2 linked regions of the Homo sapiens genome follow. The main gene of each other region encodes a partner of the protein of the gene in region 2 in a complex. Each region holds a gene or a part of one and is shown on either strand. Other genes may lie near its edges.

Region 1 (3,901 bases), on a different chromosome or scaffold from region 2:
CATATATTTACTCTAATAGAAACTCTACAAATATTCCAACATAATTAGACTCTTCTGGTGTACAAACCACCGTAAGACTGCCTATTCTCCATACCGCATTGACATGCTGCAGCCACTAGGGCGAAAATGGGCCGTTTCTTAGAAAAATGGGCTCAGAGTATGGGAGTGTGAGAGAAATGTGGGTGATTACGCACACACTCCTTCCTTCCCCAAGTGTTCCTCAGGGGCTTCTCCGCTTAAGGTTCACTGACAAGACAGGCGGAGTTTTACGTGCGTCTGAGACCAGGTCATTTTTGCCCTTGGCGTCTCTTCCTTGGCGCGTCCTCACCTAGTAGAGAATAGAGGCGCAGCTCAGGAGTAAACTTCAGCCTGGCCGTTCACCACTCGATGTGTGTTACAGCCGAGTGACAGTGGTGAGATAGACCTGCTGGCCTTGCTTTCGGGACCTGCAGCAAGATTTTTGGGTGCTGTCCAAGAATTCCCGCGGTTACACTCAGCGCCCAGGATCTGTACAAAAAAGCCCCAATAGATGTTTTACGTTCCCTTCGTAATATTTAACGCTTGGCCTAGATCCGAGCATTCACTCTAACGTTCGGTTTCTTGATCCTTCCCATCCCCAAACTCTGCGGGTAGATCAGTGACTATTACTATATTTTGAACGAGACTCCAACCCATTGCTCTCTCGAGAGAGAAGGATTGCCCGCCTTTTTCCCCCGGGCAGGAGCTCGGCGAGGCCAGGAGAGCCGCGCACCGGCCGGGCAGGGACGCGCAGGCGTCGGGCGCCGCTGGTTGCGCATCTGGCGCCAGAGCGCGCCCCCAGCGCTGTGCCCGCCGCGACCCGGGCCATGGGCTGGTGCTCCGGAGCGTGCCGGGCGCTCTCTCCCCGCGCGGGGGCACCAGAGCCCTCGGAAGTGTCAGGCACTGCGGTGTATTTTCCCCGTTCTCTTTTAAATGACTGCGGAAAAACAGATTCCGAGCCGCAAAAGGGAAGACGGATTCTCAGACAAGGCTTGCAAATGCCCCGCAGCCATCATTTAACTGCACCCGCAGAATAGTTACGGTTTGTCACCCGACCCTCCCGGATCGCCTAATTTGTCCCTAGTGAGACCCCGAGGCTCTGCCCGCGCCTGGCTTCTTCGTAGCTGGATGCATATCGTGCTCCGGGCAGCGCGGGCGCAGGGCACGCGTTCGCGCACACCCTAGCACACATGAACACGCGCAAGGTACGGCAGGGGAGCAAGGGCTTGGGATGCCCTACGTGGGGGTGGGCATCGCGGGGAGTGAATCCACGATCTGGGAATGGCTACATCCCGTCAGGTTAAAGGATGAGAGAAAATGACGCGGCGCCACACATCGGACAGGCCAGGGTGGCCACCGAGCATTTAGAATACGCATCAGGCGCGCTCCCTTCCCCTCACATGTCTCTATTTCCCGGGCGTGTGATGGCAGAAAACGGCAGGAAAAAGACCCACTTAGAGAGCTAGAATTGTGTTTGGAGACTCCCTTCCCTCTGCAAAAGCACCAACAGGAAGCCCCTCCAAAACCACCGATCCCCAAATAGGTGGCCCGGAATGGGGGCGGTGATCCTTGGTTACCAATGCAGAACACGTTTTGGTGTTTACAACATTTATTTATTTTTAGGATAGCTTGCCCTCCCTTTTAGGCAGGGTGGGAAAGGAGAACGCGGGGAGGGAGAAGGGAGGGAGGATTCCTATAATAAGAATCAGCGCATTTTTCAGAGCTGAACCAAGCACGGTTTCCATTTCAAAAAGGGAGACAGCCTCTACCGCGATTGTAGAAGAGACTGTGGTGTGAATTAGGGACCGGGAGGCGTCGAACGGAGGAACGGTTCATCTTAGAGGTACCTGGATGTAAATGCACACACACACACAGACACACACACGCACGCGCGTGCATGTCTACACGGCCAGGATGTGTGCGTGTGTGCGCGCGTGTGTGAACTCCCACATGCTGCTGCTGTCTGCTTCTGGCCAGTGGCACCGATGCCTCCCTCCTCCCTGCTCGCCCCCAGATTCCCCTCCCCTCCCTGGTGCTTTTGTCTGGAGGGTGTTATGGGTTTGTGTGTGTATGAGCGTGTGTGTGTTTTTGGATTTCAGACTAATTTTCTGGAGTTTCTGCCCCTGCTCTGCGTCAGCCCTCACGTCACTTCGCCAGCAGTAGCAGAGGCGGCGGCGGCGGCTCCCGGAATTGGGTTGGAGCAGGAGCCTCGCTGGCTGCTTCGCTCGCGCTCTACGCGCTCAGTCCCCGGCGGTAGCAGGAGCCTGGACCCAGGCGCCGCCGGCGGGCGTGAGGCGCCGGAGCCCGGGTGAGCAGCGCAGATAGTGCCCTCGGTCGCCTCGGCCCTCACTGTCTCCCCCTGGGGCGGCCTCGGCTACTCCCCAGGTGGGACGTGCCGCGCCACCTGCCCGCGCCACCGGCACCCAGCGGCCGTGGCGGATTCTGCAGCATCATTCGGGGGCCCCGTCGCGGAGCCAAAGCCGCCGGCAGTCTCCGCATTCCCCTTTAAAGGGTCCTTCGCCCGGCCTGTACCATGGAATCCTGTCTTGGGGACCCTTTCCCTACCTCCCCTCCCTTGGCCTCAGGCTCGAAGAGAGAGTGGGCACACTGGTGGCTCCAGCGGCGTCAGTGCCATCGCGGGGCAAGTTGATTCCTGGGCCGGAGCTGGGCACTCATCCATCCACAGTCTCCGGGCTGGGGTCGGGGTGGGGATGACGCGAGCAGAGAGGGAGAGTGCCCCAATTAGTGGTGTTGGGGGTCCTACGCTCAGTCTTACGCGTGTCTGTTTGTCCTCAGCCTCGAGGTGCATACCGGACCCCCATTCGCATCTAACAAGGAATCTGCGCCCCAGAGAGTCCCGGGAGCGCCGCCGGTCGGTGCCCGGCGCGCCGGGCCATGCAGCGACGGCCGCCGCGGAGCTCCGAGCAGCGGTAGCGCCCCCCTGTAAAGCGGTTCGCTATGCCGGGGCCACTGTGAACCCTGCCGCCTGCCGGAACACTCTTCGCTCCGGACCAGCTCAGCCTCTGATAAGCTGGACTCGGCACGCCCGCAACAAGCACCGAGGAGTTAAGAGAGCCGCAAGCGCAGGGAAGGCCTCCCCGCACGGGTGGGGGAAAGCGGCCGGTGCAGCGCGGGGACAGGCACTCGGGCTGGCACTGGCTGCTAGGGATGTCGTCCTGGATAAGGTGGCATGGACCCGCCATGGCGCGGCTCTGGGGCTTCTGCTGGCTGGTTGTGGGCTTCTGGAGGGCCGCTTTCGCCTGTCCCACGTCCTGCAAATGCAGTGCCTCTCGGATCTGGTGCAGCGACCCTTCTCCTGGCATCGTGGCATTTCCGAGATTGGAGCCTAACAGTGTAGATCCTGAGAACATCACCGAAATGTGAGTTCCTGGAGCTTTTCCTCCTTTTTCTCCTTGCCCCTAGGGCCCGAGCTGGCCAGGTGGGTAGGTCCTGGAAGTGAATGCTGTCCCAAGAGTGGGGAGAAGTCAAAGACAAGGGATGCAGGACAGGGTCATCTGTCAGTTACCTGCTGTTTCACTGGCTTGGGACTGCTAGTGCAGGGAGAAGTGTGACACTTTAGAATAAGTTTCAAATATAGATATACATATGCCGATTATATATTTATTCCTCGTGGGAAGGAACTCACTATGCTTTTTATATTTCAAAGCTCTGCTGGGTGTGCTTTAGGCTTTCAGTATGCACTAACTTAGTTTTGGGCATTTTTGTTTCATAAAGTGCTGTGTGTATGTTGTGTTAGAAGTTCCATTAATATTCACTAGAAAAGAGGTTAAAATAATTAACTTTCCCAAATCTGTTGAGGGAAGTGACAGTCTCTCCCTTAACATCTTTTTTGAGATTTAAGTTAACCAATTTCCCTTTTCAT
Region 2 (3,901 bases):
GAGAGAAGAAAACTGGGACCTAGAAAGAGGGGGACAGAGACCCAGAGAGAAGGGGGGACAGAGACCTGGGGGGGAACAGAGACCCAGAGAGAGGGGGGACAGAGATCCAGAGACAGAGAGAGAGACAGAGACCCAGAGAGTGAAGGGGACAGAGACCCAGAGAGAGAGGGGGACAGAGACCCAGAGAGAGAGGGACAGAGACCCACAGACAGAAGGGGACAGAGACCCAGAGAGAGAGGGGGACAGAGACCCAGAGAGAGAGGGACAGAGACCCAGAGAGAGAGGGGGACAGAGACTCAGAGAGAGAAGGACAGACCCAGAGTTGGAGGGAGACAGAAATCCAGAGGGAGGGGAACAGAGACCTGGAGATAGGGGGACAGAGACTGTTTCCCAGTCACTCTGTTTGGAAACCTCATCCCTACTATCCCCTCCAGGACTAGAAGCTAGAAGCTAGAAGCTAGAGTCCTCCTGCTATGCGGCAGGATGTATTGGCTGTTTAGGAACAGGGGAAGGGTGGAGAAGCCGGAGAGGTGACCTGAATGCACACCCAAAGCCTGGGAAGTGGCCCTTCCCCCCACCCCCAATAAATAACTGGAGCGGCCTTGTGTGTTGCCTTGGCTGGGATGGTGAGGAGCAGGAAACACCCTAACCGGGGACACCCTCCTGCCACCTTGCCATGCTATATTTAGGCTGAGGGGGTGTGGGATGACCCTCGAGGCAGGTGTCAGTTTTCCTTCTGAAAATAGCGCAGGCGGAGGGGAGCGGAGTCTCAGGGTAGAGGTGTGGTGGGGTGAGGAGCCCCGCTGCCCTCATGACTGTCCTGAGACACTCCGGCTCCGGTCCCATCCCTGTCTTTCTCAGGGTCTCTCAGGGGCTCTGTCCCCTTCTCGGGGGGGTGGGGGGGTCTGCCCTCACGCTCTCTGGGCCTCTGTCTTCTCTCTGGGCTCCTGCCCTCCCCCACTCTCTCTAGTCTCGGTCCCCCTCTTTCTTTTGGTCTCTCCCCACTTTTCCATGTCTTCTCCCTATCTCTCCCTTCATGTCACCGCGCACCATTTCTCAAGGTAGCTGATTGTTCTTAAGACACATCTGTCTATCTCTGGTCCTATGATACCTTGCACGTCTCTTATCTGAGCTCAGGACAAGACCTTCTCCCCGGTCCCCAGCCAGGAAATTCCAGGGGAGAGGAGTATGCGGGAGCCCCCACATCCACTGTCTCCCCGGGCCTGGGGCCTTATCACTGCCCAAGCCCAGCTGGTTAATGTCTGGCGTGGAGCTCCTGGGAAGTGGGGAGGAGAGCAGAGGGTGGGAATCTGCCCCGGGATTGACACGCAATTGGCAAAAGACGGCAAAGGAATCTCAGGCCCAGACTCCTGGGGCTAATGGAGGAGGAGGCTGGGGGCTGGACTCCTGAGTCTGAGACGGGGCGGGGTTGGGAGGTGGTGGGGGGAACTGTGGGCTTAGTACTCAGGCGCCTGGGGCTGGGGGGAGAGGTGGCTGGGGTCGCAAGTCCTGGGTCTGAGGGAGGAGGGGCCGGATGCCTGGACTCCTGGGTCTGAAGGGAGGAGGGGCTGGGGGCCTGGACTGCTAGGTCCAAAGGAGGAGGCAGCTGGAAACTGGGACTCCTGTGACCAAGGCGGCCGCGTTGAACGAGCCAGGCCTGGCTTCCAAGGTCCCGGCACGCGAGTGCAAGGCAGGATCCCCCGGCCCCTCCTCTGCCGCCCGGCGCCGCCCCGCCCCCGCCCCCGACCCGGGCCCTGCGGAGCGTGAGCAGCTAGCACCCGGCGGGCCAGCGAGCGTCCCTGCAGCCAGCGAGCAGGAGGAGGAGCTGCTGCCGGGCGGAGGGCAGCCGCGGGAGCCGAAGAGGGCGCCCCAGGTAAGATCTCCACTCCTCCTCCCTCGGGATTCCGGCGTCCTGGTCGCCCTGCCCTCGGGTGGGGAGGGACGGGGGCGGGGCCGACCGGGGCGGGGCTTGGCGGAGGAAACTGAGGCAAGAGGGAAGTGTCCCAGATATGCAGCCGGTTTCCCCTGAGGGGTCTCGGAGTCCGGAACCCCCAACCCAAATCTGGAGGATGAGGAACCCGGAGTCTGCATTTCTTAGTATCCGAGAAGGAGGGGCCTGAATTCCAGAACTCCTGGGTCTGAGAGAGGAGGGCACTGGGGGCCTGGATTCCTGGGTCTGAGGGAGAAGGGCGCTGGGGGCATGGACTCCTGGGTCTGAAGGAGGAGGGCGCTGGGGACCTGGACTCCAGGGTCTGAGGGAGAAGGGTGCTGGGGGCCTGGGCCTGGACTCCTCCTGGGTCTGAGGGAGAAGGGTGCTGGGGGCCTGGACTTCTGGGTCTGAGAGAGGAGGGCGCTGGGGGCCTGGACTACTCCTGGGTCTGAGGGAGGAGGGCGCTGGGGATCTGAACTCCTGGGTCTGAAGGTGGAGGCCCTGGGGTCTGCACTACTCGGTCTGAGGGAGAAGGCGGTCCTGGTTGGGTCAGCCTGGGCTCCTTTCACTCTCCACCCTTCCCCTTTCCTGTACCGAGGAGCCAGGGCAGGCAGCCACTCCAGGTATGTGCAGAAGTCTTGGGCGGGCCCTGGCCTGTCCTGTGAGGAGGGAACATTCCAGGAAGCAGCTTGGGGAACCAGGGCTTCTTGAGTGTGGGCCCTCAGGGACCCGGGTGTCCAGGCCAGTTCCGCCCCATCTGGGAGATGAATGGGCCGAGGGGGATGTAATCTCTTCCAGCCTCCTTCATCCACTGCCTCTCCCTTCCCCTATTCTCCCTTCCCCTCCCTCCATCTGCTTCCCATCCCAGCCAGGAGCCATCACCTGGGTAGAAAAGGGGCCTCTGGAAAGGGGGCGGGGCCTTGACTCTTGGGTACCCTGCACTTGAAGAGGAACTCTGGGAAGGGGTTGTTCAGGGATTTGGCCCCTTCCCCACCTGCCTCTATAACCTGTCTATTCTTTTCTTCCCCTAGGTGGTTGCCCCCTCCCTCTCCTGAGATGTCAGGAAGGAGGGGGCCACCTGTGTCCTCCACAGGGGCCCCCCGAAGCCTGGGGACTCCCAGCCCCAGAGCTCCGAGGCGGAGGAGGTGCTGACAGGTCTGGTAACTACTGACTGTTTCCCAGTCTTCTCCACGCCACCCTTTCCCAGAACCACAGGCTTCCAGAATGTTGTAGGGAAACTGCAAAATCCGCGCCTCCACCAGCCTCTCCCAGCGCCAGGTCAATTTCACACACAGGGAAACTGAAGCCTGCCTCAGAGGGGCAGCGTTTTACCTCCTTAGTGGCAGTTTTGAGGTGAACTGGGGTCTCCCTAGGATTCCAGGTTGTGACCTTTCTCTAAATTGTGGAATGTGGCCAGGCGTGGTGGCTTGAGTCTGTAGTCCCAGCTACTCAGGAGGCTGAGGCAGGAGAATGCCATGAACTTGGGAGGCGGAGCTTGCAGTGAGCCAAGATCGTGCCACTGCACTCCAGCCTGGGCGACAGAGGGAGATTCCATCTCAAAAAAAAAAAAAAAAAAATTTTGTTTGGGACCAGGCATGGTGGCTTATGCTTGTAATCCCAGCACTTTGGGAGGCCAGGACACGACTATTGCTTGAGGTTGGGAGTTCAAGACCAGTCTGGCCAACATGGTGAAACCCCATCTCTATTAAAAATACAAAAATTAGCTGGGCACAGTGGCAGGTGCTTGTAATCCCACCTACTCAGAAGGCTGAGGCAGGAGAATCACTTGAACCCAGGAGGCAGACATTGCAGTGAGCCAGGATTGTGCCACTGTACTCCAGCCTGGCCAACAGAGTGAGATTCTGTCTCAAAAAAAAAAAATTGTTTGGAACATCCTCCAAGATGCAAGACTGTCGGTTCCTCAGAGTTGCACAGGAAGGACGGCAGAGTGCAGTTGCCCAGAGGTGAAGT

Evidence for each region.
Region 1: the proteins of NTF4 (region 2) and NTRK2 are in contact, whole or in part, in a crystal structure (PDB 1HCF), measured with the Homo sapiens proteins. Residues at the interface, in NP_001382418.1 of Homo sapiens: Gly81, Val82, Ser83, Glu84, Thr85, Ala86, Ser89, Arg90, Arg91, Gly92, Glu93, Leu94, Ala95, Asp98, Ala99, Ser101, Gly102, Trp103, Thr105, Tyr135, Phe137; in NP_001018074.1 of Homo sapiens: Phe291, Glu293, Thr296, Ser297, Asp298, His299, Cys302, Pro304, Thr306, His335, Val336, His343, Gly344, Cys345, Asn350, Thr352, His353, Met379, Gly380, Trp381, Pro382, Gly383.

What each region holds. Positions count from the first base shown.
Region 1 is NC_000009.12:84,667,563-84,671,463, forward strand, and holds the start of NTRK2 (BDNF/NT-3 growth factors receptor isoform a precursor), read left to right. Parts: upstream 1-2,166; 5' UTR 2,167-2,326; exon of another isoform or gene 2,327-2,659; intron 2,660-2,786; exon of another isoform or gene 2,787-2,814; 5' UTR 2,815-3,186; coding exon 3,187-3,398; intron 3,399-3,901. UniProt on the Homo sapiens protein: Receptor tyrosine kinase involved in the development and the maturation of the central and the peripheral nervous systems through regulation of neuron survival, proliferation, migration, differentiation, and synapse formation and plasticity.
Region 2 is NC_000019.10:49,062,923-49,066,823, reverse strand, and holds the start of NTF4 (neurotrophin-4 preproprotein), read left to right. Parts: upstream 1-2,005; 5' UTR 2,006-3,085; exon of another isoform or gene 3,086-3,208; intron 3,209-3,901. UniProt on the Homo sapiens protein: Target-derived survival factor for peripheral sensory sympathetic neurons. May promote ameloblast differentiation and subsequent reduction in proliferation of ameloblasts.